Linked DNA regions of Homo sapiens. The protein of the gene in region 3 interacts with the protein of the main gene of each other region in a biochemical or structural test. Each region holds a gene or a part of one and is shown on either strand. Other genes may lie near its edges.

What was found.
Region 1: of the proteins of ACVRL1 (region 3) and SMAD1, one has a biochemical effect on the other in vitro, tested with the Homo sapiens proteins (2 studies listed by BioGRID).
Region 2: the proteins of ACVRL1 (region 3) and EIF4E form a complex in vitro, tested with the Homo sapiens proteins (one study listed by BioGRID).
Region 4: the proteins of ACVRL1 (region 3) and NR1H2 form a complex in vitro, tested with the Homo sapiens proteins (one study listed by BioGRID).

What each region holds. Positions count from the first base shown.
Region 1 is NC_000004.12:145,484,850-145,491,873, reverse strand, and holds part of SMAD1 (mothers against decapentaplegic homolog 1), read right to left. Parts: intron 1,598-7,024; exon of another isoform or gene 1-1,597. UniProt on the Homo sapiens protein: Transcriptional modulator that plays a role in various cellular processes, including embryonic development, cell differentiation, and tissue homeostasis.
Region 2 is NC_000004.12:98,919,126-98,926,149, forward strand, and holds part of EIF4E (eukaryotic translation initiation factor 4E), read right to left. Parts: intron 1-7,024. UniProt on the Homo sapiens protein: Acts in the cytoplasm to initiate and regulate protein synthesis and is required in the nucleus for export of a subset of mRNAs from the nucleus to the cytoplasm which promotes processes such as RNA capping, processing and splicing.
Region 3 is NC_000012.12:51,902,836-51,910,514, reverse strand, and holds the start of ACVRL1 (activin receptor type-1-like isoform 1 precursor), read right to left. Parts: upstream 3,012-7,679; 5' UTR 2,820-3,011; intron 1-2,819. UniProt on the Homo sapiens protein: Type I receptor for TGF-beta family ligands BMP9/GDF2 and BMP10 and important regulator of normal blood vessel development. On ligand binding, forms a receptor complex consisting of two type II and two type I transmembrane serine/threonine kinases.
Region 4 is NC_000019.10:50,372,363-50,379,457, forward strand, and holds the start of NR1H2 (oxysterols receptor LXR-beta), read left to right. Parts: upstream 1-4,094; 5' UTR 4,095-4,214; intron 4,215-4,356; 5' UTR 4,357-4,464; intron 4,465-5,224; 5' UTR 5,225-5,243; coding exon 5,244-5,286; intron 5,287-5,370; coding exon 5,371-5,508; intron 5,509-5,786; coding exon 5,787-6,077; intron 6,078-6,159; coding exon 6,160-6,434; intron 6,435-6,639; coding exon 6,640-6,819; intron 6,820-7,095. UniProt on the Homo sapiens protein: Nuclear receptor that exhibits a ligand-dependent transcriptional activation activity. Binds preferentially to double-stranded oligonucleotide direct repeats having the consensus half-site sequence 5'-AGGTCA-3' and 4-nt spacing (DR-4).

The DNA.
Region 1 (7,024 bases), on a different chromosome or scaffold from region 3:
TCTAATACTGCAATTCAGGTAGGAGAGAAAGGGGCCTATTTCAATATGCTCTAGGAAGCACTGGTGTCTTCAAGGTTCATCATCTACGCCAGGTGACTGAGAAACTGTGTATAACTGATAGCCCCTCACACTGCAATAAGGAAACTCCTGGACGAAAACCATGTTATGGAGGGAAGCAGGGTGCCTGCCTCTTATAACTCTACTTTGTATATATCTTGTACCTCCTTGACACTCCAGATTCTCCTAGGAGGCTGGGAAATTCGGGCTTCCTTTCCTTAAATGAGAAAAGCCCAGTCTTCCCAGACTGATACTTCCTAGTATACAAAGAATAACAAAATACAGGAAAAAGGAAGACATCATCCCCATTTCAATCAAGTCTGATCCAGGACATAACCAAAACATTGTGTGTTCATTAGTAGTTTGTACTTCTTTTTTCCTTTTTCTTGAGACAGTCTCACTCTGTTGCCCAGACTGGAGTGCAGTGACACAATCATAGCTCACTGCAGCCTTGAACTGCTGGGTTTAAGTGATCCTTTTGCCTCAGCCTCCAGAGTAGCTGGGATTACAGGCGCAGAATCTTCCCGTCAGCAGTTGGCATTTCATTTGTTTGTGAAATGCTTGTTCACGTCCACTACCAATTTTTCTATTGGGGTGGTGCTTCCTATTGATATAAGTCTTTCTTGTAAAGAACAATATCTTGTTGCAAATCTCTTTATCTGTCTTTCAGGTTTTGTTTTTGAGTATGTTTGGTCACATAATAAATGCTATCAAATCTATAAAAAGTTTCCTTTATTGTTTCTGCCTTTGGAGCCACATTTTGAAGGGCTCTGTGGCTGGCTATTAATAACCCTCCCCCCAGTGGCATAAATCAAACTCCCCTTTCCTTCTAACACTATGACAAGAATCCACTGCAGAATCTTTCTGCATTAAGCACATATTGGTTTAATGAAAAAGAAATGTTTTTAACCGTAATGAATGCTGTAATAAAAGCCACAGAAAAATTCAGAATACAATACTTATTTTTTTAAGTTCTAATTAACTTAACCTTTAAAATCATTACAGGGATTCTTCTGTTAGTTCAATTTCTATACTTTTCTTAGAAACCTTTATCTAGAATTGTTAGGGAAATGCTCTATCTACAAATTCCCAAACTTGATATTTCACTACTTCATTACCAAGATTCTCATTGCTTACTGCTTCTCAATTCATTTAGTTCATCAGGCTTCTTATAAAACAAGTAAGTGTTGGGGCTTGGTCTTACACCCAGGCAATCTGACTCTAGAGTCTTATCTCTGAACCCATTTGCTATCCCTAAGCCTACCAGGCCACAAAGTGATACCAAAAAGTAACAATTAACCTAGTCTCCTATACAGCAGCCTCACCACACTTCACCCCAGGTTTCCCCCCAATTGTTTAGAATTTGACTTCTCTATAGATTGCCTGGCACACTACCTACGGTGGTTCTTCTTCCCTTACCATGTGCTGATCTTCCTCCTCACCATCCCAGTGAAAGGACTTACCTCCAACAATACAGGAAAATCAGCAAAAGTGCACAGGAGCTCTGCCACATGCTTTCTTCTCACTCGGACCCCATTCTGTTTCTTTCTCAGACAACTCTCCCTCCTTACCACGGTCAACATTTGTCACTTGTGCTCCAGATGGCTAACTCCATCACCTCCAATTGCTCTCTGTCCACTGACTTCTTCCCCTCAACCTTCAAATATGAAGAGGTCTCATCTATCTTAAAATTCAAGTCACTTAAGGCAATATAAGACTCTCTCACTTCTTAATGTATTCAGCCTTCTCTGAAATTGCATTCACATGATTATCTGACTTCTTCTCCTTCACCCTGAACTGTACATTTTCCCCTCCAAACCTACTTCTAGAATCTCTCTTCCAGTGGCTTCCTGGTTTTCCCACTCCTCTGACCCCATGCCTTTCTTCCAGTTTCTTCTTTGGTCTATGTCAAACAGCCTCTCAGGCAGTCTACTTCAAATTAGCCTCTTCCTTCTATTAATTCCTAACCGTGGGCTCCAATGGAAGATTCAATCCACCAGTTCTTTCTCTCTTTGTGGTTGTCTCAGAATACCCAGCAGATGACTGCAGAGAGTCTAACGTAAAGCTTTCAAGTCCTCCCAAACCTTATCTCCAACCTGCCTGTAGCATACTTTGACTTAGATATCGCACCTTAAATTTAACACATCAAGTCTAATTTATCATTTGCACAATTTTTATTTCTTCTACAACCAGCTCTTCCCTATTCTTAAGTAACATCTTTATTAGTTTTCCAGCCACCAAGTTTAGAAACTTAAGGATATATCTCCGACATCTCTTTCTCATTACTTTATAGCCACATAATCACCAAGCCTTCATGGTTTTTTGTTTTATTTTATTTATTTATTTATTTTTAAATCCTTCTCTTTCCATGTCTACCTTTACCAGAGATTTATCATCTCACACATAACTCAATAGCTTTCTTACTGATCTCCTGGCACTGGGCTCTATCCCTCCAGTGCAAACTGCATGTTCAAACACTTTCAGTGACTTCCCAATGTTTCCTTATTCTGGCACTCTAAGGCCCTAAAATTCTCACTGGAAGTCAACCTTTCTGAGCATCTCCTCCACACCACCATACTAGGCTCCATGAGGAACACCCACTGAGGTCAGGCAGGGCTGCTCACTGCCTCTGGATCTGTGCTATTTGATATGATAACCACATGTGGCTACTGAAACATAAATTAATTTTTTAAAAAATGCTGTTCCATGTGTGGCTACAGCTACTGTATTAGCACAGATGTGGAACATTTCCATCACTGCAGAAATTCTATTGGACAGTGCTGCTCTACAGATACTCAACACTCATGCTTATCTCCCAGTTTTTCATGCCATTACTCTGTCTATAATGTCCCTCTTCCTTCTGCCTATGCAAACTCACATGTCCTTCCAGGCCACAGTGGTCCTGATGTGAGTTGTCTGTACAATTTACTCCTATACTACCTTGTAACGGCTCTTATAATGTTGCTGCATTTAATTTTTCATGTTTGTGTATACTCTAATTATTAAGCCTCAGAACTAATAAATATTCAGGGAATAAATGAAGCATATACTTATTACAATACTGCAGCAAAATGATCAAATAAGGGCCCATTTAATATCCCTCCTTCATTAAAAAGATACGTTTCTTTTCCATCTAAACAAACAAAAGATCTTGCATTTAGTTAACTGAATAATGGCTTAATTAATGCCTAATTATAACCGTTGAGAGAGTCTCCCCCCCACCTTTTTTCTTGAAGTGTTTGAAACTAAAAGAAAAAAAAGCTATAAAGGTCTGGAATACTTCTACTTTGCATAAGCACACCACAAAGAAACCACACACACACACACACACACACACACAAAAAGACAGGGAGAGGATAATACATGAATAGTTGGAGTAACTATACCCTAACAATCTCAGATTGTAGAGCAAAATATCCACAGTACAGCAGCCCTACAATTAAGGGGAAACTACAAATAAAGCATTAAAACTTATGTATAAAAATATATTCTGAATCAACAGAGAGACCCCTCTCTCCTCCTCTTCCCAAACAGGACCTAGTGAATATTCATTTACATCCTGAACTCAAAAGCATATACATGCATAATTAACAATTGTATGTTCTTTCTTCAGATCCAGGCTTATTGTCTCAAAAAAAATATTTGTTAAGAAACCAATCTATACTGCAAACCTAGGTTCTTATTAAAAAAAAAAAAGTTCCTTTTTCAAACACTAAGAACATAAAAGAGATTTGGGAAAATCACCAGGTAAGGACTTCCTCACACCTTAGAGAATTTAATGCTTTATTTTCAAGAGAGAGTCTTCTCTAAAGTTCAGATTTTAGCTTATAACAAAAATTATAAAGATGCTGAACTGTTCAAATACTGTAGTTCCCAGTACCTTACTAAAACTCTGATGTAGTCACTGGAGTGAAACTGCTTATGAAACTTTTGGCTTTTCTTTTCTGAAAGATAGTTTCCTTTATGCAAATGAATGTTCTAGAGAAGCCGCTCATTTCTGCAAGTCAGCCCGCAATAGCTACAGACATTACTGTTTTGCATATAGGACTAGCCCTGCACCTCTAAAACTGACACCATCTTAATAACGCAGAGCAAGATGAGTATTTTAATTTAGATTTTAAGCAATTACATTAATACTATTTGGCTCTGCCTTTTTCTTCTCTTTCCTTTTCTTTTTAAAGGTGGCTACAGCAGAGTGATGAAAATACTTCAGGTATTTTTGCTGCAAATCAGATGCCAGATCAACAGATTAGACTGAATATTTGTACTACCAGATAACAGCAGGAAAGGAAAATAAAGGGTCAAGAGGTTTCAGATTGGGGCAAAGAGGACATGCCCCTATTTGTTATCAAAGTATGTCCTAAAATCTTGGTACCAAAGAGTAAAACCACATATAGAAGTAGCAGAACATTTCATCAACCTCAAAGACATGCTATGACTTAAAACCGATTTTTTCCACTTTTTTATATTTAAATTATCCTTTTTCTCCTCAGACCTGTCCAATTCTCTCCCTAGGACTCCCTAGCTCCCTAAATACCCCAAACTTTAGCTTTTGGTTAGGAATGTGATTTGTTTTCGAGAGTCAAGAGGAGATTCGTATATTTTGCTAGATGTCAGAGTTGCCTGCTTTAATTTGAACTTTGTGCAATCTTGGATCTCCCATTTTCTAATAAGGTCTCATTGATTAAATTAGATATAGGGCTTTTCTTTTCCATCTCCAGAATGAAAAAGAATCAATTTTAATATGTAGAAAATAAGCATTTCTCTCTGGTTGTCAGATTTGATTCCTACTTAGCTCAAACAATGTTAGGTATAAAAAGTTGCTAACAGGCCAAAAAATTCTTTCCTCCCTTCCCTAAATTACACTGGATATGCTTACACCAAAGCCTCAGAAATATCGTGAGCGTGGTAGGGAGAAAAAAAACCTGAAAACAAAAGGGCACTTAATGCCAAGAGGAGTCCAGATCTTGGCTTTCCCTTTTCCAATCACTAGACAGGTAACTTTGGATGTCAGTTACCTTCTCTGGACTTCAGACTGTTCACCTTGATATGAACCAACCAGATTAGAAAATCTTTAAAGCAACTTTTAATACTAAGTATCTCTATTCTCTGTAAAGGAAATTACAAATCTTAATGTTTATGAAAGCACTTGGCAGTCCCATGGACATATTTCACCCGAAAGACCATGAGATTTGGATAGTTAAGTGTACACATTAACTCACCATGACATATAAGCATTTTGGGATAGGAAGGTGGGAATAAGAAGATACAAGATCCATAGTTTCATCGATTCTTAAACAGCCCTGACCTTGTAAAACATTTACAAAAATAGATGTTGAATGTTTTTTTAAAAATCCCCAATGAATTTGCAATTACTATTCTTACAGTGTTTAACAGCTCAGGGAAGATAGACTAATTTTGGTAAGACAGACAAACTGAATTACTACAACTTTCCTCCTAACTTAATATCAGTTTGTGATTATGTAAGAAAATGCAAGAGGAAAGTGACAAGAATTATGCAGAAAAGCAGAGATAAAACTAATTTGGCTTTGAAATGCATTATTTTCATGCCAGATTTATTCTTCAAATTATGTGCTGCTTAGATGAGCATTATTTTTCCTTTCTTAAACACTTACAAAAGAACGACAGAAGATAGCCCAGAAAGGCACAATAGAAGGTAAATTTATTTAAAGACCTACAAAATACACAAGCCAAGTCATGTCTATACTGGCATAGTAAAGCACAGCAGAACAATGATGATTTGGGTCTTCTGAACGAAAGACCAAAAAACATAGTTAAGATGGAGTTTCTAGAGTTGGACTGCCTCGATCATATCCCAGGTAAGATTAGAAATCATAATCATTCACTGTACCTCCTGAAGCAAGATACTGAATCATTCTGTCCTCAGTTTCTTTACCTGTAAAATGTGACAACAATAGTACTTATGGAAGTTTTGAGGCTTAAATGAGATATGGGTATTATAAACAATGCCTGGCATACATACAGTAAAAATTCAGAAAAAAGGGTTAGCTACAATTATTTCTTCTCTCTAAGGCTCTAAACCAAATTAGAATCGATGACACTAATAATAAATAAGATCTACAGAAAAGTCAAACTCCTTTTATCCAGCAGCTTCAACTGTCCCTTCCAAATTGTGTTTTATTTTAAAAAGAACAGCTAGTTAGTGATAAAATTAGTTTATATATGTCTTTCCATCTTTGACTCCACAAATCATTAGTAGAGTTAACAAGTGAGAAGAGGTAAAGGTCCTGGGGCAGCAATGGCTAGCAGAACCTCCTGTGATGATGGAACTATTCTATATACACGCTGTCCAGTATGGCAGCCACTAACCACAAGCAGCTACTAAGCACTTGAAATGCGGCTACTGCTGAGAAAACGAATTTTTATTTAATTTTAATTTAAACTTAAATAGCTATAAGTAGCCGAGTGCAGTGGCTCACACCTGTAACCCCAACACTTTGGGAGGCCGAGGCGGGAGAACAGCTTGAGCCCAGGAGTTCAAGACCAGCCTGGGCAACATGACGAAACCCTGTCTCTACAAGAAATACAAAAACAAATTAGTCAGGCAGACATGGTGGCAGTGCCTGTAGTCCCAGCAACTTGGGAGGCTGAAGTGGGAGGACTGCCTGGGCCTGGGAGGTCGAGGCTGCAGTGAGCCATGATCGTGCCACTGCACTCCAGCCTGGGTAACACAGAGAGACCCTGTCTCAAAAAAATAGAATAATAAAATTTCAAAAAAAGCTACGTGTGACTATGGCTAGGATAGCAGAGCCCTAGATAATCCATAAGCTAAATAAGGATTGTCAGAAACTTAAGCAAAATAAGGATCTTCTTTTCCTGAACTGTTTATATGTTCAATTCAAATATCTTTGTTTCTGGTATAGGCCTGGTAAGTTTGACTAGTTAAAGAAATAACATGTCAGTAGATATCAATACAGTGAAAATT
Region 2 (7,024 bases), on a different chromosome or scaffold from region 3:
GTGAAATGCTGTCTCTACTAAAAACACAAAAATTAGTTGGCAGTGGTGGCGCACACCTGTAGTCCCAGCTACTCAGGAGGCTGAGGCAGGAGTCACCTGAACCCGGGAGGTGGATGTTGCAGTGACCCGAGATCGTGCCACTGCACTCCAGCCTGACAACAGAGTGAGACACCATCTCAAAACAAAAACAGAAACAAAAAGACTAGCAAAAAAAAAAAAAACAAAAAAAAACATTAACCCACAGAAAAATTCTAATTCTATACAAGAGTAAATAACTATCTTTCAAAGTTTAAAATACAGAGCGACAAGCTTTTCTAGGATAGAATCATGTATCTAACCAAACTGGACATATCCAGTTATACCTTATAAAGTTGAACTAAATACAATATGTATACATACATTTGCACACACCAGAATTTCTAGATTCTTTTTCTTTTTTTTTTTTTTTTTTGAGATGGAGTCTTGCTCTATCACCCAGGCTGGCGTGCAGTGGTGCAGTCTTGGCTCACTGCAACCTCCGCCTCCCAGGTTCAAGTGATTCTCCTGTCTCAGCCTCCCGAGTAGCTGGGACTACAGGCACGTGCCACCACACCCAGCTAATTTTTGTATTTTTAGTAGAGATGGGGTTTCACCATGTTGGCCAGGCTGGTCTCCAACTCCTGACCTCAAGTGCTCCACCTGCCACAGCCTCCCCAAGTGCTGGGATTACAGGCGTGAGCCACCATGCCCGGCCAGAATTTCTAGCTTCTGAGGCCATACTGCACAATTAGGTAGCCATTACCTACATGTGGTTAATTATTAATATTAAATAAAGTTTAAAATTTATTTCCTTGGTTGCACAAGCCACAATATCCAAATGCTCAATTACCATGTACAGCCAGTGGCTACTGTATTGGACAGTAAAAAATACCCTTTCCATTATCTCAGAAAGTTCTCCTGGACAGACTTTTTCTAGTAGAATCCTCAAAAAATTGTAATTGGGCAATTTGGAAAGGGGAATGAGGTGGTTGGGGAAGATAGGCAGGAGATAGGTTTTCCACATTAGACAGAACTTAGCCTGTGCCAGATAATGTCCTTAATATGACTCATGCTAATTCAATCCTTGTTGTACTTCAGTATAAATTGGTTTCCTTTGTAAACCTATGCATTTTATGTAATACATGTTAAAACATTCTTTTTTCTTTTTTTTTTTTGAGACGGAGTTTCACTCTTGTTGCCCAGGCTGGATGCAATGGCACCATCTCGGCTCACTGCAACCTCCACCTCCCAGGTTCAAGCAATTCTCTTGCCTCAGCCTTAGCTGGGACTACAGGCACCCATGAACACGCTCGGCTAATTTTTGTATTTTTAGTAAAGATAAGGTTTCACCATTTTGGCCAGGCTGGTCTCGAACTCCTGATCTCAGGTGATTCGCCCATCTCAGCCTCCCAAAGTGCTGGGATTACAAGCATGAACCACTGTGCCTGGCCTGCATTTTAAAACACTCTAAGATAGGGGCTATAGGCTTTACCAAATTGCTATTTTGGACCATGAGTATGTAACTAAGTCAAAGAAAAAAAACAAAAAATAAAGAAAAGCTAAATACCATGATGTATAAACCAACATCCAAAACAGATTTTACAATCCACAACATGGTAACAAAGTATACAAGTTCAAATGAAAAAAATTTAACCCTCCTAATCCCACCATCCATAAACCATCTGGCATATTCTTTCAGTTAGAATTTTACACTTATTTGTGTACCTACGCATCAGTATCAACCCTAACATACAAGTTTTACTGAAGGATGGACTTTAGTTTTGGTTGAATTTGTTCCTCTTTTTACACAAGATAGTAATAAAGCTTGACACTCAGGTTTGAGTTCTCTCTCACTTATGTTAATTATGAGTTCTATAAAAATAACTTGCCTTGCTAAAAATTAAAAAAAAATTTTATATTCAAGTGCTATTCCTTTTGCGGCACCAAAACTTTGTATGTAACACTTAAGGAACTATGTGACCGTGGTAGAAAGTTAAAAATCACTTGAAATATGAATTCCTCACCTATAAAGTATTCATTTATTCATCAGAAAAAGAACTATAAGAAAAAATATACATTTCACATATCAATTAAAATATCAAACTTTCTTGCCTTAGTTAATACTTCTGACCAGATTTTGTGCCAACATAGGCTTACTGCCCCATAAGAAGTTTCACGGCAATACTAATATGTTGACATATATATGTAGACATATATATCAAAATTAGTTACAATATTTTTTTCTGTGCTCTGCTCATTACAATGACAGTAATGGAGTGCAATGTCATCATCTCGGCTCACTGCAACCTCCACCTCCCAGGTTGAAGCAATTCTCTTGCTTCAGTCTCCCAAGTAGCTAGGACTACAGGCACCCGTGACCACGCTTGGCTAATTTTTGTATTTTTAGTAGAGATTACAATGACAGTAATGAGCAGAGCACAGAAAAAAATATTACAACTAATTTCTGTATAGCATTTTGTAGTAACAAGCTTAAAATACACCAAGAAACACGTATGTGTACATTTTAGCTTAAACTTTTTCAAAACAACTGTTTTACCCTTTGCCAGACTTATCACCAAAATTACTAAAAGTACTAAGGTAGTTAAGTCTAGAATAAATCCAAAATTCACAAACTTTTAAAAATGTACTAAAACTTTTTTCACTAGCAAAATATTTTAACTGGGAAATCATACGAACTAGCAAATGCCAGAAATCAAATTAGAAAGGGGGAGAAGGTTAAGTGTCCATCCACTTTCTTTAGAAATCCACAAAGTTCTCAATTAGTTACTAAAACACGATTGGTGTAATTGCTTGGTTTAGTCCTCAAGATTATATATTTTTGTTATCTAACATTGTAATATAACAGGGCCTAAAAATAAATGCCCACACGTTTTATTTTATAGCTGTAGCAAAACACATAGTAAGCTTATCAAAACACATCTCCCCTTCTGAAGTCACCCAAGCAAAGCACATTACATGCCTACTTGAAAGAGTGCAACGGTTAAGAATATACACTCTGCACTTTGGCTGCTTTAATTTAAACTCCACCCCACCACTTAATAGCTGTGTGATTTTGGAGCAAGTTAGTCACACAATGTTACTTCATCTGTACTGTTAAGAATTAAATGAGTTAGCCTGGCGCGGTGGCTCACGCCTGTAATCCCAGCACTTTGGGAGGCTGAGGTGGGCGGATCACGAGGTCAGGAGTTCGAGACCAGCCTGGCCAATATGGTGAAACCCCATCTCTACTATAAATACAAAAATTAGCCGGGCGTGGTGGCACGTGCCTGTAGTCCCAGCTACTCAGGAGGCTGAAGCAGGAGAATCACTTGAACCCAGGAGGCGGAGGTTGCAGTGAGCCGAGATCGCGCCACTGTACTCTAGCTGGGACAACAGTGAGACGCTGTCTCAAAAAAAAAAAAAAAAGAAATAAATGAGTTAATATATGTAAAGCATTCAGTGTGGTACTTAACATAGAATAAGTGCTATGTGTAGCAATTACAAATAACGATCTTTCTACATTAAAAATAGCTGTTACAAACAAGGTATGTTTATAAGGTTTTTTTAGTTAGTTGCTTACAACTATAAATCCATATCCTTAATTCCATATCCCTATAAATCCAATGCTGGTTAGATTTGTAATGATTCCACAAAAATTTACTGAATATAGTGTGACTAAACTTCATTTTCCTGTTTTTTCTTTTTTCTTTTTTTTTTTTTTTGAGAAGGAGTTTCAGTCTTGTTGCCCAGGCTGGAGTGCGATGGCAGACATAGGCTCACCGCAACCTCCACCTCCCAGGTTCAAACGATTCTTCTGCCTCAGCCTCCCAAGAAGCTGGGGTTACAGGCATGTGCCACCATACCCAGCTAATTTTGTAATTTTGTTAAGTAGAGACAGGGTTTCTCCATGCTGGTCAGGCTGGTCTCGAACTCCCGACCTCAGGTGATCCGCCCACCTCAGCCTCCCAAAGTGTCGGGATTACAGGCGTGAGCCACCACGCCCGGCCCATTTTCCTACTGTTTCTATGGAATAATGTATCAAAAGTTCCAACTGGGGAAACAAAAAAAAAAAAACCCCTTATATTTCTGACCACATTCTCAGGTTCCAGAAGTGCCCAGAAATGACTATTAGTATTTTAGACACACACACACACACGCAAAATCATTTTCTTTTTCTTTTTTTTTTTGGTGAGATAGGGTCTCTTTCTGTCACCCAGGCTGGAATGCAGTGGTGTGATCACAGCTCACTGCAGCTCTGACCTCCCAGGCTCAGGGGATCCTCCCATTTCAGCCTCCTGAGGCTAGGACACAGGTGTGCACCACCATATTCAGCTAATTTTTTAATTTTTTGGAGAGACAGGGTCTCGCCATGTTGGCCAGGCTGGTCTCAAACTCCGGGCTCAAGTGATCCTCCTGCCTTTGTCTCCCAAAGCCTCGGATTACATGTGTGGGCCACCAAGCCCAGCCCCTTTCTTTTTCTGGAGACATGATTAGGGACTTTTGAAGGAACACTAGTGATTTTTATGGTAGGGATAGGAGTGGGAAGAACATCTTAGGATTGTGAATCACAGGCTTTGCATTTCTTGCTAATGGCTAAGGATTGATAATTAAAAAGCAGCAATGTGAATTTCCAAGAAAAGAGGGAAAATAGTATGTAAATGCATGGATATACATGAGTATAAAACATTCATGGAATGTCAACTTTAGTCCCTTACAGTTGACAAACTGTCACCTTTGAATACTGCATTTAAAAATTGAAATCACCGTAATATATCTTATTCCGACTTTCAGCTGACTTAGAAATTTCAGTCTTCAAGATCACTCAGATATTAAGATGAGACTATAACCCATGCTCATTTCCACTTCTCAAAAAAGTCTCTATGACTAAGATGGTGCAACTCACCGGTACTAATAGATTAAGGAAACTTCTTTTGTTTATTTTTTTTTTTTTTGAGACGGAGTCTCGCTCTGTCACCCAGGTTGGAGTGCAGTGGCACAATCTCAGCTCACTACAACCTCCGCCTCCCAGGTTCAAGAGCTTCTCCTGCCTCAGCCTCCTGAGTACCTTGGGATTACAAGCACGCATCACCACGCCCAGCTAAGTTTTGTATTTTTAGTAGAGGTGGGGTTTCACCATGTTGATCAGGCTGGTCTCAAACTACTGACCTGGTGATCTACCCACCTCGGCCTCCCAAAGTGCTGGGATTACAGGCATGAGCCACCGCACCCGGCCCATATTCTTAACTTTATGTAAATTAAACAATATTTTACTTAAATGTTTTTTGCCTACAGTTTTCTGTCCAAACTAGAGTAAGCTTACATAATTCATTTTGCATATTATCCCTCTGCAACTTCTGTGTATAAACTGTGTGTCTACATTGAATTTCTCTAAGTCTAATAATCATGCTCATTAACTCAGATTATAAAATGAAGTGTGAAATTTGTTTCTGTTTTTTTTTTTATTCTTTTTGATGGAGTCTTGCTCTGTCGCCCAGGCTGAAGTACAGTGGTACCATCTCGGTTCACTGCAACCTCCACCTCCAGGTTCAAGCGATTCTCCTGCCTTGGCCTCCCCAGTAGCTGGGATTACAGGCGCCTGCCACCAGGCCTGGCTAATTTTTGTATTTTTAGTAGAGACAGGGTTTCACCATTTTGGCCAGGCTGGTCTCGAACACCTGACCTCAAGTGATCCCCACCCGCCTCGGCCTCCCAAAGTGCTGAGATTACAGGCGTGAGCCACCGCACTCAGCAAGTATATTTTTTTCTTTTAATTGAAGAAATCTGGAATATGAACCCCAGAGCCAAATTTACGTGGATTATCGAGGAACTCTGATATAGTGGGTTCTTTCATTAAGCAAAAAGTCCACTAATTTGCATAGTCTGGTTGGCATTCAATTGTTCATTAATATGAATTATATAGTACAACAAATATTTGTCAATATGTATATAAACCTTATTTACTCTTATTAATAAGCTGTGTAGTACAGAGCATGTTTCCAAAGTATAAAAAAGGAAGCATTAAATTAGCTGATTGTCCAAGTTGATTCACTTATGAAATTAGCGTGGTTTCAAAAAATTCAAGAGCTACAATGTAAAAACAAGTAAAATTATACACTTTCAGTTAAGCTAAAGAAATCAAAATTAATCTCTTACCTCAAAAGGAACTACAAGTCAAAAAAAAATTTTTTTAATTCTAATAATGAACGATGTAGAATGAAGATAAAGCTACAAAGAAACACGACCTACTGGAGGTAAGATGGCCTTGCCATTTTCACAGACTAATATTAAACCTAATTTTGACCCAGCCACAATTCAAATGCCGATAGAATAACATCAGAGTACCGTTTGCCCTAACGTTCAAATTTTTGCCAAATTATCCGTTAAGAGGTAAAATGTTTCCCTTAATTTTCCCTTTCAAGCTTCTCAACAAATTTAATATTTGTGGGCCACATCTTCATGTAACTCAACTCATACAAAGAGAAAACCACACAATAATATCAAACTGAAAATGATATTTTATGTAATGTCCATAGACAAAAATCATCCAGATACCTATGCATGATGGGATAAGCAGGAAAAGCCCATGGCTCTTTTTAAGTGTTTATGATTATGCACAGCAGAAAACCATTATGGAAGCTCACAAACTAGCTGAAGTAAGAAAAAACATGATTTTTGCAGCCTTCAGCAGGGGTATCTCAAGTACAATCCAATTCTAATCAGTTGCTTCAAAAAAAAATCCAGGCGAGGCTCGGTGGCTCACGCCTGTAACCCAACATATTGAGAGGCCAAGGTGGGAGGACCACTTGAGTCCAGGAGTTTGAGACCAGCCTGGGTAACCATCGCGAGATTCCATCTCTACAAAAAGTTTAAAAATTATCCGGGCGTGGTGGCCTGCTCCTGTAGTGCTTGCTACACCAGAGGCTGAGATGGAAGCATCTCTTGAGCCCAGGAGTTTGAGGCTGCAGTGAGCTATGATCGCGCCACTGCACTCCAGCCCCAGCAACAG
Region 3 (7,679 bases):
TTTATCACGCATCAGAATCACCTGAAGTGCTCACTGAGAAAAGCATATTCACTGGTTTCACCCTCACTCCAGACTCTGATTCAGTCCTGGAATCAGCAAGAAACATGCATTTTTTAAAAGTTCCCCAGGGAGTTCTGATCAGTTTGTGTGGGCACAACGCTAAGTCTGGTTCCTCTGCTTTCATTTTGCTGTACAGGGCCCTGCTGGGTGAGTGGGAGTGGGATGCAGAGGGAGGGGACACTCACTCCCACCCAGGATACTCCCCATCTACTACAGAAGGGACAGCCAAGGGTAAACACCAAAGCTGGGACGTGGTGACACTGTGGAGCGAGGCTGTCTGCATCTGCAGAACCCATCTATGGTCTAATCCTGGGAATGTGATGGAGTAAAATTGGGACTGTCCAATTTTTAACTGGACCCAGTGTGAGATCAAGTACAGGAGGATGCTGAGTCCCGACCAGTCCAAACTCAGAGCTGACTCTGTACGATTTACCCTGAAATCTGACTGTAGCACAGACAGACTCCTGGGGCCTGGCAGGATCCTTTCACTTCTAAGCAAAACTTTGTGAAAGATCTCCTGCTGACAGAAGCATCACTATTGTTGGCCAGAAATTACAGACGTTAAACTAATTTCAAACGTTAGCTAAACACTATGAAATACTTAATAATAACAGTTAACCTTCTCTGAGTACTAATTATGTGCTAAGTACTGAACTTGAATGGTTTATCTGATTTAATCATCACAACAGTCCAACGGGGGAAAGTGAGGCTCAGAGATGTTCAGTTTCTTGTCCATAGTCACTGAGCGTGTCTTAATAAACTTAAATTGCTGATAATAAATCATTCCTTGGTCATTGTTATTCCTCCAGTTGTTTGGGGTTAGATGAGTCCCTCAAAGGAAGAAAAAGACATGGGTCTCGGTGGACGTGTACAAATTGCCCACTACTGTTGTTATTAACGGGTGCCCTACTCAGATTTGTTTAAATGAAGACAGCGTTTTTGTTTGTTTTTAATTTTTTTTGAGACAGGGTCTTGCTCAGTCGCCCAGGCTGGAGTGCAGTGGTGCAATCATAGCTCACTGTAGCCTTGAACTCCTGGGCTCAAGTGATCCTCCCACCTCAGCCTCCCAAGTCCCAAGGGACTACAGGGGTGCAGCACCATGCCCAGTTTTATTTTTAGTAGAGATAGGGTCTCACTATGTTGACCCAGGCAACAAAGGTGGTGTTGCTGCCCAGAAATCATCTGTTTGCCATAGGCTTAGTCAAAGTCTGAGCCTCAGGTGGGGAGAGCCAGAGTAGTGGTATGCCCGAAAGGTGCTTATCAATGTTTTTCTCCCTAGCACACCTGAAGGATTGATAAAACCTACTCCCATCAACGGCAGTGGCTCAGCACAGCAGTGATCTTCACAGGGCTGGAGAAGCGCCATATCAAGCACAACCTTCTGGACTCACTCTGCACTTCAGTAGGCCTTACCCCAACAGCAGAGGAGCAGACCCAGCTGTTCATATTGGGTTGCCCTTACGATTCATCCATGTGATTTATTAGCCCTTCACAGCGGGGTGATGCAGTGGAACATCCAGGTGATGCCTGGATTTTCAGGTCTCAGGCAGACCATGGAGGCAGCACAGTGTAGCACAGAGGTTAGGGTGTGGGCTCTGGAGCATGGAGACCTGGGTTCAAATCCTGCCTTTGCCACTTAGAGGTATGAAATTTGAGACGTTACTTAAACTTTCTGAGGCTTAGGCTTCCCATCATATGTAAAGTGGGAATAATAATAGTGTTATCTCATAGGTAAAATGTAGTACAATTATTTAGCAGAGTATAAGTAGTACACAGTAAGCACTGAAATGTTATCAAGACCCCAACCATGCCATTCACCCCACCATCCAAGGAGTTTTGGACAAGTCCCATATTCATGTCTGTTTCCTTTTCTGTAGGAAGGGGATAGTAACCCCTCTTCCACTAGGTTGCGGCCAGGATTACATGAGAAAAAATATATATATCTAAGTGTCTACATAGTTAGTACTCAATCAATGGTAGCTATTTCTAACAAACCAATGAAATGGGGGGACAGGTGAGAGGACAGGTATTAGGACAGACCCTGACTCAGCCAGAAGCTGGCCATACATAGAGAGAGTGAGAGCAACTGTCCATTATGCCCCTGTCCTTGGAGAAGGAAAGAGGAGCTGGGGCAGCCAGCCCAGCCATGGGTTTCACAGCACTGGCCTCCATGGAAAAATCTGGGGTCCCAGCCTGGGGGGAGACTGGGATCCCCTTTGGCCTGGATCCTGAAGGAAGGTCGTGGCAAGGAGGTGACTGACCATGCGCGCCTAGGGTGAGACTCCTAGGTTGGAGTGATAGTGTCAGATTCCTCAAGCAACAGCTGGAAGGACTGATCTGGGAAAGGTGAGCTCTGCTGGGAGGCTCAACAGCTGTGGAAGTAGGCATTCACTCCAGGTCCACCCAGCGGCCTGGAGGACGTGTGATCCCTTCTATGTGAGTAGAGCAAGACAGGAATCCCACTGCCCATTTTATGAAGAGGGTAGGAGAACAGAGAAGTGAAGTCACTGACCCCAGGTCACCCGACTAGAACCAAGTTTCTGATTTCCAGTCCAGTCTCGTCCATTCCCCTCCAAGTCTCAGGTAGGGTCATGGGAGCTGTGCGTGGTCAGCCAGGAGCAGCTTGCCTTTCTAATGAGCTGGGACTGAGCCTCCCGCGACCACTCTGCGGTGACTCTGGGGTCCGCCCGAAGGAAGGGCCCACTGAAGCGGGGGTCAGGCCGCCCGCCACCCGGTCCCGTCCGCGGACCTCGACTCACCTCTGGGCCCGCTCTGCGGGTGGCGGGGCGCTAGCCTTCGGCGGACCGGGGCCACCTCCCCTCCACCGCGCGGCCGCAGTTGCACCGCCAGCGCTGGACGGCGGGCTGGGGTCCGGGCGCGGCCCCGGACCGGGCTGGAGCCGGGGAGGGGCTCGCTCGGCGCAGCTGGCGCGGCAGCCTCCCGGGACTGGGATGGGGGCTGGAGCAAAAATGTTTCTTATTCCAGCGTCTTCCTGCCTGGCCCAGCTCCACCACTCCCTCCTAATAAACCGTTTCCTTATTGCCCAGCTCGCCGACTGGCCGCCGCTCGCCCCTCGCTGGGGCTGCAGGACCGGGACCCACCCCCGCGCCGCTCCCAGCCCCTCAGGGCGGCCTCCCCTCCCAGCCGCCCGCAGCTCCCGGGTCGCTGGCCCGCACCCGGGCCGGGCCTCCCACATCCGCCTCCCCGAGGGGGCGGGCCTTGGACTCAGGCCGTGGGGGTCCTGTGGGGGTCCCATAGGGGTCCCGTGGGGTCCGGACCCACAGCCGTGGGAGACAGAGCCGAGACTGTAGGCAACGTCTGGCGGCCGGAGTAGTGGGTGGGGGTAGAGGGGGATCGGCTGGCAGCAGCGGAGGGGCCGCCTGGAATCGGGGCGCCGGGAAGGGGCCACCGAGGAAGGGACAGGCGGGGGTGGGACGGGGAGGGACACTACCTATCCTTACCCCACCCTCAGCCCGGGGGTCCTCGGTCTAGGAGGCTTGCAGCAATGAGGGCAGAGTTTGGGGCTAGCAAAATCCAGATGCGTTTTGACTCCGCCCTCGGGAACTCCCGACTTGGCCCAAATCCTTCAGTCCCCTCCCTCGGGCCCCTTCGTCCCCCATTTGTCCCCTCCTGTCTTCAGCAGCCTCTCCCGATCCGCACTCAGCACAGGGGTATACAGGCCCAGAGGACGGCCTTGGGTTAGCCCTGAGGATGGTTTGAGCCCTTCCTGGCCGTTGTGCAGCTGGGTGACAAAGACACCCCCGCCCCGCCAGGGACAGTCAGGATGGAGGGACACGCTGGGAGCAGCCTTGGACCTTCCCCTTCCAGGCAGGGCCCCCACCCCAGCAAATGGAGCTTTAGATAGAGGTGGGGAATGGAGCCTCCCTGGAACTCTGCTGACACAAGGCAGCTGGGGAGGGAAGCAGAATGGCTTCATACCGGCAGGGGAGGGGGACACAGACTCTTCCTGATGCTCCTGCACAGGCTGGGAGCACTGACCTCACTGCCCTGCTTTGCTCCAACCATCTAAGTACCTGCAGGACTCTGGTCTTAGTCCTAGCCTCCTGGTTATCCACAGAGACTCTGAAGTCAAACTACCTACTAGGAATGCAGGCTGGTTGTGTTACCGTAGGCTAGTGACACCTCTCCATGCTTCAGTCCCCCATCTGCTAAATAGGCATAGTAAACCGTGCCAGCCTCATAGGGTGGTTGTGAGAATAGACGGAAATGATGCTTATCTCAGCTCATAGCAAAGATGCTGGCTGGCTGAGCCTGACTCAGAGGAGGCCCTCAATGAAGGCGTTCGTTAATTAAATGAATAAATGAAAAGGCTGGGGAGGGGGTGGCCTCAGAGACACTTGGAAAGACGTGGGTATTAGAAGCAGGAGTAGACCTCTAAGGTGTCTTACTCTAATATGGGGATTCTACAAGATGAGCCAGGGACCCCTCCTCCTGCCCCGCCCCACCTTTTGACAGGAATAGAGGCTGGGGGAGATAATGGCTAAAAGCTCAGACAGGCATCAATTATTGACTGACCTCACTTCCTCTGCTGAAACCCTCCCCATCCCCCACCCCACAGCTGCTTCACAAGTTGTGAGCGTTGTGAATTCCCAGAACCCTGACACACCCAAATTTCAGTGTCAGGACAGAACTGTGTCCTGCAGCCAATAGGAAGTACTATGGGATTACGATATCTGCTCTTTCAGATTATAGCGGCCACTTGGGCCCTCTACGAGCTGGAGAACTGGGAGCCTGGCCGCGGGTCTGTCTTTCACACTCTCTCTCCCTGCTCCGCTATGGCTTCTGGTCAACCTTTTCCTCCCCCAACCCCTGGATCTCTGTCCTGAGAAGCGAGAGTCGGGGCTTCCCAAAGGAAGCCTTTAGTCTGAGAGGCACACTGAGCACAGAAACTTCGAGATGGACAAAAGCTGAGAGTCACTTCTAACAGTCAGTGGGGGATGGAAGACTATCTGGACCAGCGTTCGTGAAACAGATAAAAATAGAGTACATTTTGGGAGCTGGAAGAGAGGACCCAGGGGGGGCTGGAGTCTGTTCATCAGTGCTGGAATCTTCCCCATCTCCCCAGAGCACTGAGCCCTCTGGCCCCTGACTGGTGCTCTTTGGGGCTCTTGTGAACCCCATGCCTTCCAAAGCACACAGAGAACCTGGGGGAGGTGTCAGAGTTGGAGATCCAGAGTTGGAGAAAGCCCTGGAGAGTCATCCCAATGAGAAAAGGGAAAAGGAATTACAGACTGTGTCCAAGTCTACAAGAATTAATTACTCAGAGGGACCAGCTGTTCCCCATATTCAGTGAGGACAGAACAAGAGGAAACAGGCCCAAAGGACAAAGATTTAGATTTAGATACTCAGAAGGATTTCCCAACACTGCAGGAAGCAGAGGCCTGGAGATTCTGTGTGGGGTGAAACCTCAAGCAGATTCTCATCTGTGGAAGGTGGGTGACATGGAGTCTGTCAGGAAGGCAGGGCAATGGACACCTTCACCTTTCAGGACCAGCTATGAGTATTAAGTTCAAGCATCATTCTTTTTTTTTTGAGATGGAGTCTCACAGTGTCGCCCAGGCTGGAGTGCAGTTGCGTGATCTCAGGTCTGCCTCCCAGGTTCAAGTGATTCTCCTGTCTCAGTCTCCCAAGTAGCTGGGATTACAGATGCGTGCCTCCACGCCTGGCTAATGTTTGTATTTTTAGTAGAGACGGGGTTTCACCATGTTGTACAGGCTGGTCTCGAACTCCTGACCTCAGCTGATCCACCCACTCAGCCTCCCAAAGTGCTGAGATTACAGGCATAAGCCACCCCACCCAGACTCAAACATCACTCTTGATACTAGTGCGGGGCTGGCTTCATGGGAGTGTGACCTGTGCAGATGCACAGGGCCCCATGCTTGGTTTAATGCGCTGTCATTGCCATCTTAAAATTCTTAATGATATATTTTTTTTCCATTTATTTAGGTCTCTTTTATTTATCAGTGTTCTTGTAGTTTTCAGCATTTAACTCCTTTATGTGTTTTGTTACACTTATACTTTTTAAAAGCAATTATAAACAGGATATGCTATTTTTAATTTTTGTGTCCATTTGTTCATTAAATTATATAGAAATATAATCGATTTTTACATATTGATCTTGTATACTGTGACCTTGCTGAACTCACTTATTCAAGGGGGTGAGGTATTTGGGTTTTCTACCCCTCATGGATTCTTTGGGATTTTCTACATCGACAGTCATCTGCATCTGCAAATAGAGACAGTATTATTTCTTACCTTCCAATATGCATATCTTTTATTTCCTTTTCTTACCTGACTGCACTAGCTAAAACTTCTAGCATTATGTTGAATAAGAGTGGTCAAAACAGAACAGCCATCCTTGCCTTGTTTCTCTTAGGAGAACACACTCAATCTATTAATCATAATGTTAGCCGTAAGTTTCTTGTAGTAGCCACTCTATATCAGATTGAGAAAGTTCCCCCATTCCTCTTTTGTGTGTGTGTGTGTATTCTTATCATGGATGGCTATTGAATTTTGTCAAATGCCTTTTCTGCATCCACTGATACGAATTGTGTAATTTCTCTTTGTTAGTCTGTTAATACGGTAGATTATGTTGACTGATTTTCTCTTCTTTCTTTTTCTTTTTTTTTTTTTTTGAAACAGAGTTTTGCTCTTGTTGCCCAGGCTGGAGTACAATGGCGTGATCTCGGCTCACTGCAATATCTGCCTCCTGGGTTCAAGCGATTCTCCTGCCTCAGCCTCCCTAGTAGCTAGGATTACAGGTGCCTGTCACCACACCTGGCTAATTTTGTATTTTTAGTAGAGAAGGGGTTTCTCCATGTTGGTCAGTCTGGTCTTGAACTCCCGACCTCAGGTGATCCACCCGCCTCGGCCTCCCAAAGTGCTGGGATTAGAGGCGTGAGCCACCGTGCCCAGCCTATGTTGACTGATTTTCTAATAGTGAACCAGGCCTTACATCCCTGGAATAAACCCACTTGGTTATAATGTGTACTTCTTCATTATATATAGCTCAATTTTATTTGCTAATATAGTAATTTGCTGCATAATGAAGTTTCAGTCAAAAATATTCCACACATACAATGATGGTCGCATAAGATTATAAATGGAGCCAAAAAATTCCTGTTGCCTACTGACGTCGTAGTAACGCATCGCATTACTCATGTGTTTGTGCTGATGCTGGTATAAACAAACCCACTGCGCTGCTAGCCATAGAAACGTATACAGCATGTACAGCTATGTTCAATAAACAATACTTGATGATAAATGACAATGCTACTGGTTTATGTATTTAATATCCTATACTTTTTATTATTATATTTTAGAGTGTGCATCTTCTATTTTTTAAAAAAGTTAACTTTAAAGCAGCCTCAAGCAAGTCCTTCAGGAAGTATTCCAGAAGGCATTGTTATTACAGGAGACAGCAGTTCCACACATTACTGCCCCTGAAGACCTACCAGTGGGACAGGATGTGGAGGTGGAAGACAGTGATAATGATGATCCTGACCCTGTGTAAGCCTAGGCTAATGTGTGTGTTTAATAAAAAAAAAAAATTAAGTACAAAAATGAAATTAAAAGTTTTAAACATAGAAAAAAACTTA
Region 4 (7,095 bases), on a different chromosome or scaffold from region 3:
GCGGTCCCACATACTCTGGAGGCTGAGGTGGGAGGATCACCTGAGCCCAGGAGGTCAGGGCTGCAATAAGCCAAGATGGCACCACTGCACTCCAGCCTGGGCGACAGAGTGAGATCTTATCTTAAAAAAATAAATAAATAAATAAATAAATATAAATACAGTTCCACCATATCAGGCACCTCATTTGAAACCCACCCTGTTTATGCTTTTACCTCATTTAGTCATAAGAGTAAGGCAACAAGGTCATACTCTTGATCCCGGTGGGCTAGGGGAAGTCCCCATATGCTGGTGTGGGACCTCCACCCCAGCCAATGTCCAGGCTCTTGACACCATCTCGGGAAGGAACTTGAGGACAAGTGGGAAAATACTGAAAGTACAAAGATGTATTGCAAAGTGAAAAGTACACACTCAACAAAGAGGAGTACAGGTGGACTCCAGAGAGAGTCTCCTGCAGGGGGGGTTTGGGGCTGCTACCTTAATGGGTTTCTCTCTTTTTGTTTTGAGACAGTCTTGCTCTGTCCCCAGGCTGGAGTGCAGTGGCACGATCTTGGCTCACTGCAACCTCCGCCTCACGGGTTCCAGCGATTCTCCTGCCTCAGTCTCCTGAGTAGCTGGGACTACAGGTATGTACTATGGATTTCTTTAATCAAGGAGTGGAATATTCATGAAGATTCCTAGAAAAAGGAGATTTTTGAGAACTGTGGTGCCACCCACTTTTACACCAAATATGGGTGTTCCTGTAACCGTCCTGGTGCTGGTGGGTGTGTGTTTATGTTAATGAGCATATAACGAGGTCCTAGGTGAGACCTAGGTCATATGTAGGGCCTTGTTGGGTCCAATGTGTCTTAGCCAGGTTGGTCCACACCTAGGGTTTTCAAGAGTCTTATCAGCCCCCACCTGCTGCAACTATTTCAACAGTTTCCTTTTGCTAGTCATGTGAAACTGCTGCCTGGAATTTTCTATTCTCCTGTGACTACCCTGTGTTATTCCTGTCTCGCTTTTTTTTTTTTTTTTTTTTTTTGAGATAGAGTTTCAGTCTGTCGGTAGGCTGGAGTGCAGTGGCGCGATCTCGGCTCACTGCAACCTCTGACTCCTTGGTTCAAGAGATTCTCCTGCCTCAGCCTCCCAAGTAGTTGGGATTACAGGCACGTGCCACCACGCCCAGCTAATTTTTGTATTTTTAGTTGAGATGGGGTTTCACCATGTTGGCCAGGATGGTCTCCATCTCCTGACATCGTGATCTGCCTGCCTCAGCCTTCCAAAATGCTGGGATTACTGGCATGAACCACTGTGCCTAGCCTCCTGTCTCACTCTTTTTAATTTTTTTATTTTTATTTATTTGTTTATTTATTTATTTATTTTGAGACGGAGTCTTACTCTGTTGCCAGGCTGGAGTGCAGTGGCGCGTTCTCGGCTCACTGCAACCTCCGCCTCCTGGGTTCAAGTGATTCTTCTGTCTCAGCCTCCCAAGTAGCTGGGATTACAGGCACGTACCACCACGCCTGGCTATTTTTTTTGTATTTTTTTTAGTAGAGATGGGGTTTCATGGTGTTGGTCAGGCTGGTCTTGAACTCCTGACCTTGTGATCCACCTGCCTTGGCCTCCCAAAGTGCTGGGATTACAGGCGTGAGCCACCGTGCCCTGCCTTTATTTTTTTATTTTTGAGATGCAGTTTTGCTCCTGCTGCCCAGGGTGGAATGCAATGGCAAGATCTTGGCTCACCACAACCTCTGTCTCCCGGGTTCAATTCTCCTGCCTCAGCCTCCTGAGTAGCTGGGATTACAGGTGCCCGCCACCATGCCCGGCTAATTTTATATTTTTAGTAGAGACCAGGTTTCAGCAAGTTGGTCAGGCTAGTCTCGAACTCCTGATCTCAGGTGATCCACCTGCCTTGGCCTCCCAAAGTGCTGGGATTACAGGCATGAGCCACCATGCCCGGCTTTCTCACTCCTGTTTGCAATTTACAGGCAAGGAAACTGAGGCACGGGGAGGTTAAGGAACTGGGCTCAGTGTTACACAGGAAGGAAGTGACAGAGACACCAGGTTCTGCCATTTCCAACGCTCATGTTAATCACTTGTTTCGCTTCTAACATCCCTAGGTGGAAAATTCCACAATCTCAAACGATGGGCCTGAGTAGACATAATAAGTTACAGAAGAGCATGGATCACATAGTCCCATTTCTTTTTTATAAAGGCATACACATATGTCAGAGGCATTCCAACCACAGCGATTCTGTCTTGAATAGGAGCTTGGTAAAATAAGGCTGAGACCTACTGGGCTGCGTTCCCAGGAGGTTAAGGCATTCTTAGTCACAGGATGAGATAGGATAGGAGGTTGGCACAAGATACGGGTCACAAAGAGCTTGCTGATAAAACAGCATATGCAGTAAAGAAGTCAGCCAGATCCCAGCAAAACCAAGATGGCGATGAGAGTGACCTCTAGCCGTCCTCATGGCTCATTATACACTAATTATAACGCATTAGCATGCTAAAAGTCACACCCACCAGCACGATGACAGCTTACAAATGCCATGGCAACGTCAGGAAGTTCCCCTATATGGTCTAAACGGGGGAGGAACCCTCAATTCTGAGAATTGCCTACCCTTTTCCTGGAAAACTCATGAATAATCCACCCGTTGTTTAGTATATAATCAAGAAATAACTATAAGTATAATCACAGTGAACAGCCCAAGCCGCTGCTCTACCTGGAGTAGCCATTCTTTTATTCCTTTATTTTTATTGCATTTTATTTTTGAGACGGAGTTTCGCTCTTGTTACCCAGACTGGAGTGCAATGGCGCAATCTCGGCTCACCGCAACCTCGGCTCACCGCAACCTCCGCCTCCTGGGTTCAAGCGATTCTCCTGCCTCAGCCTCTCCCGAGTAGCTGGGATTACAGGCGCCCGCCACCATGCCTGGCTAATTTTGTATTTTTAGTAGAGACGGAGTTTCTCCATGTTGGTCAGGCTGATCTCAAACTCCCGACCTCAGGTGATCTGCCCACCTCGGCCTCCCAAAGTGCTGGGATTACAGGCGTGAGCCACCGCGCCCGGTCCGAGACTGAGCTTTTTTAATTCTTCCAATCACCAAGTTATTGAAACCATTTTTGCAAAATTTTAACAATGAGAAAATTCTGACATCTCAAATCTGGCCAGGCACAGCGGCTCACGCCTGTAATCCCAACACTCTGGAAGGCCGAGGTAGGTGGATTGCCTGAGGTCAGGAGTTCGATACCAGCCTGGCAAACATGGTGAAACCCCATCTCTACTAAAAATAGAAAAATTAGCCGGCCGTGGTGGTGGGCACCTGTAATCCCAGCTACAAGGGAGGCTGAGGCAGGAGAATCGCTTGAACCCAGGAGGCGGAAGTTGCAGTTAGCTGAGATCGCGGCACTGCACTCCAGCCTGGGCAACAGAGTGAGACTCCATCTCAAAAAAAAAAAAGTAAAAATAAGCCCGGTGCCGCAGCTCACGCCTGTAATCCCAGCACTTTGGGAGGCCGAGGCAGGCGGATCATTTGAAGTCAGGAGTTCGAGACCAGCCTCGCCAACATGGCGAAACCCTGTCTCTACTAAAAATACAAAAAAATGAGCCGGGCGTGGTGGCACATGCCTGTAATCCCAGTTACTTGGGAGGGTGAGGCAAGAGAATCTCTTGAACCCAGGACGCAGAGGCTGGAGTGAGCTGAGATCACACCACTGCACTCCAGTCTGGGGTGACAGAGTGAGACCTCTCCAAATAAATAAATAAAAATAAATAAAACTAACAAGCAGCACGACTCCAAAATCAGAAAACTTGTAACGACCAAAAAAGTGCAAACGTGCCTTAAATCAGTCATGTGCGACAAGCAGCTATAGCTAGGGTTTGGCCGCAGGCTCAGAGAAGCGCATGAATGAGCTAAAGCCACAAAGCGCGGGGCTGGAGGTTTGGCTCCCAAGAAGCGAGGAAATGGGTTCGGAACTCTTCTGCCAAGTCCCAGTAGATCTACCCGGTAAACTTCCGGTGAGTTTCCAACTTCCGTGCGGGGCAGCAGCTTCGGCTGGTCCTAAGCGGACCGGAAGTTCGTCAAGTTTCACGCTCCGCCCCTCTTCCGGACGTGACGCAAGGGCGGGGTTGCCGGAAGAAGTGGCGAAGTTACTTTTGAGGGTATTTGAGTAGCGGCGGTGTGTCAGGGGCTAAAGAGGAGGACGAAGAAAAGCAGAGCAAGGGAACCCAGGTAGGTGCACCCGAGAGTGGGGAGACGCAGGAGGAGCCCCGAACCCGGGGCTTCTCGGCGCTCCCCGCGTACTCCGCTCTGCCCCCTTCTCTCCTTCCATTTCCTCCCCTCGGTAATTCGCGCCTCCCGCGGCTGTTTCCAGGGCAACAGGAGTAGTTCACTCCGCGAGAGGCCGTCCACGAGACCCCCGCGCGCAGCCATGAGCCCCGCCCCCCGCTGTTGCTTGGAGAGGGGCGGGACCTGGAGAGAGGTGCGAGGGCGGAGCATGAATGGAGGAGGCGGGGCGGGGCATGATGGGAGGTGATGGGGCGGGACCTGCAGCGCGGTGCGGGGGCGGGGCATGAAGGGAGGAGGCGGGGCTGGGGGCGGGGCATGATGGGAGGAGATGTGGCGGGGCCTGGAGCGAGGTTGTGGGGGTGCAGTAGGAAGGGAGGAGGCGGGGCGGGGGCGGGGCATGATGGGAGGGGATGGGGACCTGGAGCGAGGTTGTGGGGGTGAGGCTTGGAGGGAGGGATGCATATGGGGCGGGGCAAGGTGTTGGGAGGCCCATGATGGGGGCTTTAGGGGCTGAACCTGGAAGGTTGAGGGCGGAGCATAGTAGGAGGAGGTGGGGTCAGAATGAGAAATAGGGATGCTTGGGGCAGAAGTGAGGTAGAGTCTTAAGAAGAGGAGGTGGGGGGAAACTACATGGCATGGAGGCCGTGAAGGCAGAGCATGATTAAAGGAGAATGGGCCCTACCTAGAAAAAGCAGGTGGATTGGACCTGAGGGGGCGGGGCCTACAGCAGGGGCGGGGCTTAAGACCAAGCTGAAGGCTGGCGTGGAACAGAAGGGGGCAGGTCTTGTTAGAAGGATGGGGAGGGTTTGTAGGCTGGCAGGAACCAGGGTTGTGGCTGAGAGTAGGGTCTTTGGAGAGATGGAAAAAAAAGGGAAAGCCCTGTCAGGACCTGTAACTGACCTAACCTAACCCTTCTTAGCCCCACAAGGCTCTCAATCCCCTGTATTCTACAGGCTGCTCCGTGACCCCACCATGTCCTCTCCTACCACGAGTTCCCTGGATACCCCCCTGCCTGGTGAGTGACTCTCTTCCCCACCCAGCCCTTATCACACACGAGCAGAAGCTCACTGTACCTCTCCCGGATTCCACCCTCTTCCAGGAAATGGCCCCCCTCAGCCTGGCGCCCCTTCTTCTTCACCCACTGTAAAGGAGGAGGGTCCGGAGCCGTGGCCCGGGGGTCCGGACCCTGATGTCCCAGGCACTGATGAGGCCAGCTCAGCCTGCAGCACAGACTGGGGTGAGACAGGGCCCTGGAGTTGATGTGGGGGCTTGGGGAGGGGTTTAGGAAGGGAGAAAGAAATAGAAATGGGAATGGGAGGCCCTGATCTTTGCTTTTTGTTCTTGCTTTCTCCTTAACATATACATCTTTCTAAATTGCAATTTCCCTGAATGTGAGCAGCAACTCCTCTCTCCCTCCATCCTCTGGCTCTTTGCCTGGGGATCTCCTGTGGGCCCATCTCTCTGGTTCCTGTTTCTCCTTGTGGCTTTCTCATGGCCTCTACCTACCCACCCCAGTCATCCCAGATCCCGAAGAGGAACCAGAGCGCAAGCGAAAGAAGGGCCCAGCCCCGAAGATGCTGGGCCACGAGCTTTGCCGTGTCTGTGGGGACAAGGCCTCCGGCTTCCACTACAACGTGCTCAGCTGCGAAGGCTGCAAGGGCTTCTTCCGGCGCAGTGTGGTCCGTGGTGGGGCCAGGCGCTATGCCTGCCGGGGTGGCGGAACCTGCCAGATGGACGCTTTCATGCGGCGCAAGTGCCAGCAGTGCCGGCTGCGCAAGTGCAAGGAGGCAGGGATGAGGGAGCAGTGTGAGTGCAGCGGGAGGGGGCGGTGCCGGCCTGGCCCCCCGCCTAGCCCTGGGGTTCTGCTGAGGCCTGCATCCCCCTACAGGCGTCCTTTCTGAAGAACAGATCCGGAAGAAGAAGATTCGGAAACAGCAGCAGGAGTCACAGTCACAGTCGCAGTCACCTGTGGGGCCGCAGGGCAGCAGCAGCTCAGCCTCTGGGCCTGGGGCTTCCCCTGGTGGATCTGAGGCAGGCAGCCAGGGCTCCGGGGAAGGCGAGGGTGTCCAGCTAACAGCGGCTCAAGAACTAATGATCCAGCAGTTGGTGGCGGCCCAACTGCAGTGCAACAAACGCTCCTTCTCCGACCAGCCCAAAGTCACGGTACTGCCCCCTCCACAACCTTGAGTGTGACGGTCCCAATGGGGTAGAGCCAGCTGGGCCATCACCCAGGGTGTGGGAGAATGAGGCTCCAGAGGGCAGGGGCTTTGGGAAGAGGATCCCCCAGGGTGCAGGCTTGGCCTCAAGGTGGCCACCCAGACTTAGGCTCACAAAGACCTGGGAGTGACCCTGGTCTCCTGTGTCCCAGCCCTGGCCCCTGGGCGCAGACCCCCAGTCCCGAGATGCCCGCCAGCAACGCTTTGCCCACTTCACGGAGCTGGCCATCATCTCAGTCCAGGAGATCGTGGACTTCGCTAAGCAAGTGCCTGGTTTCCTGCAGCTGGGCCGGGAGGACCAGATCGCCCTCCTGAAGGCATCCACTATCGAGGTAATGGTCCATCTGCCCACAAGGAACCCCAGAGATAGCTCCAGGACAGATGCTGGGAGCAGAGTTAAGGAAGACCAGTGCTTGCCGTTGTAGGATGACATTCCACGGCGAATAGAGTCTTCTATGAGCCAAGGAGAGAAAGGAAAAAGGGTCTGAGGCTGAGAAAATTGAGGATCAGGCTAGAGGCGCTATTGCAGAGAAAAGTTGCCAAAAAGGCTTTTCAGAGGAGTTAGCATTTGAATCAAAGTAGGGATAACATATAAGTATTGAGCACGT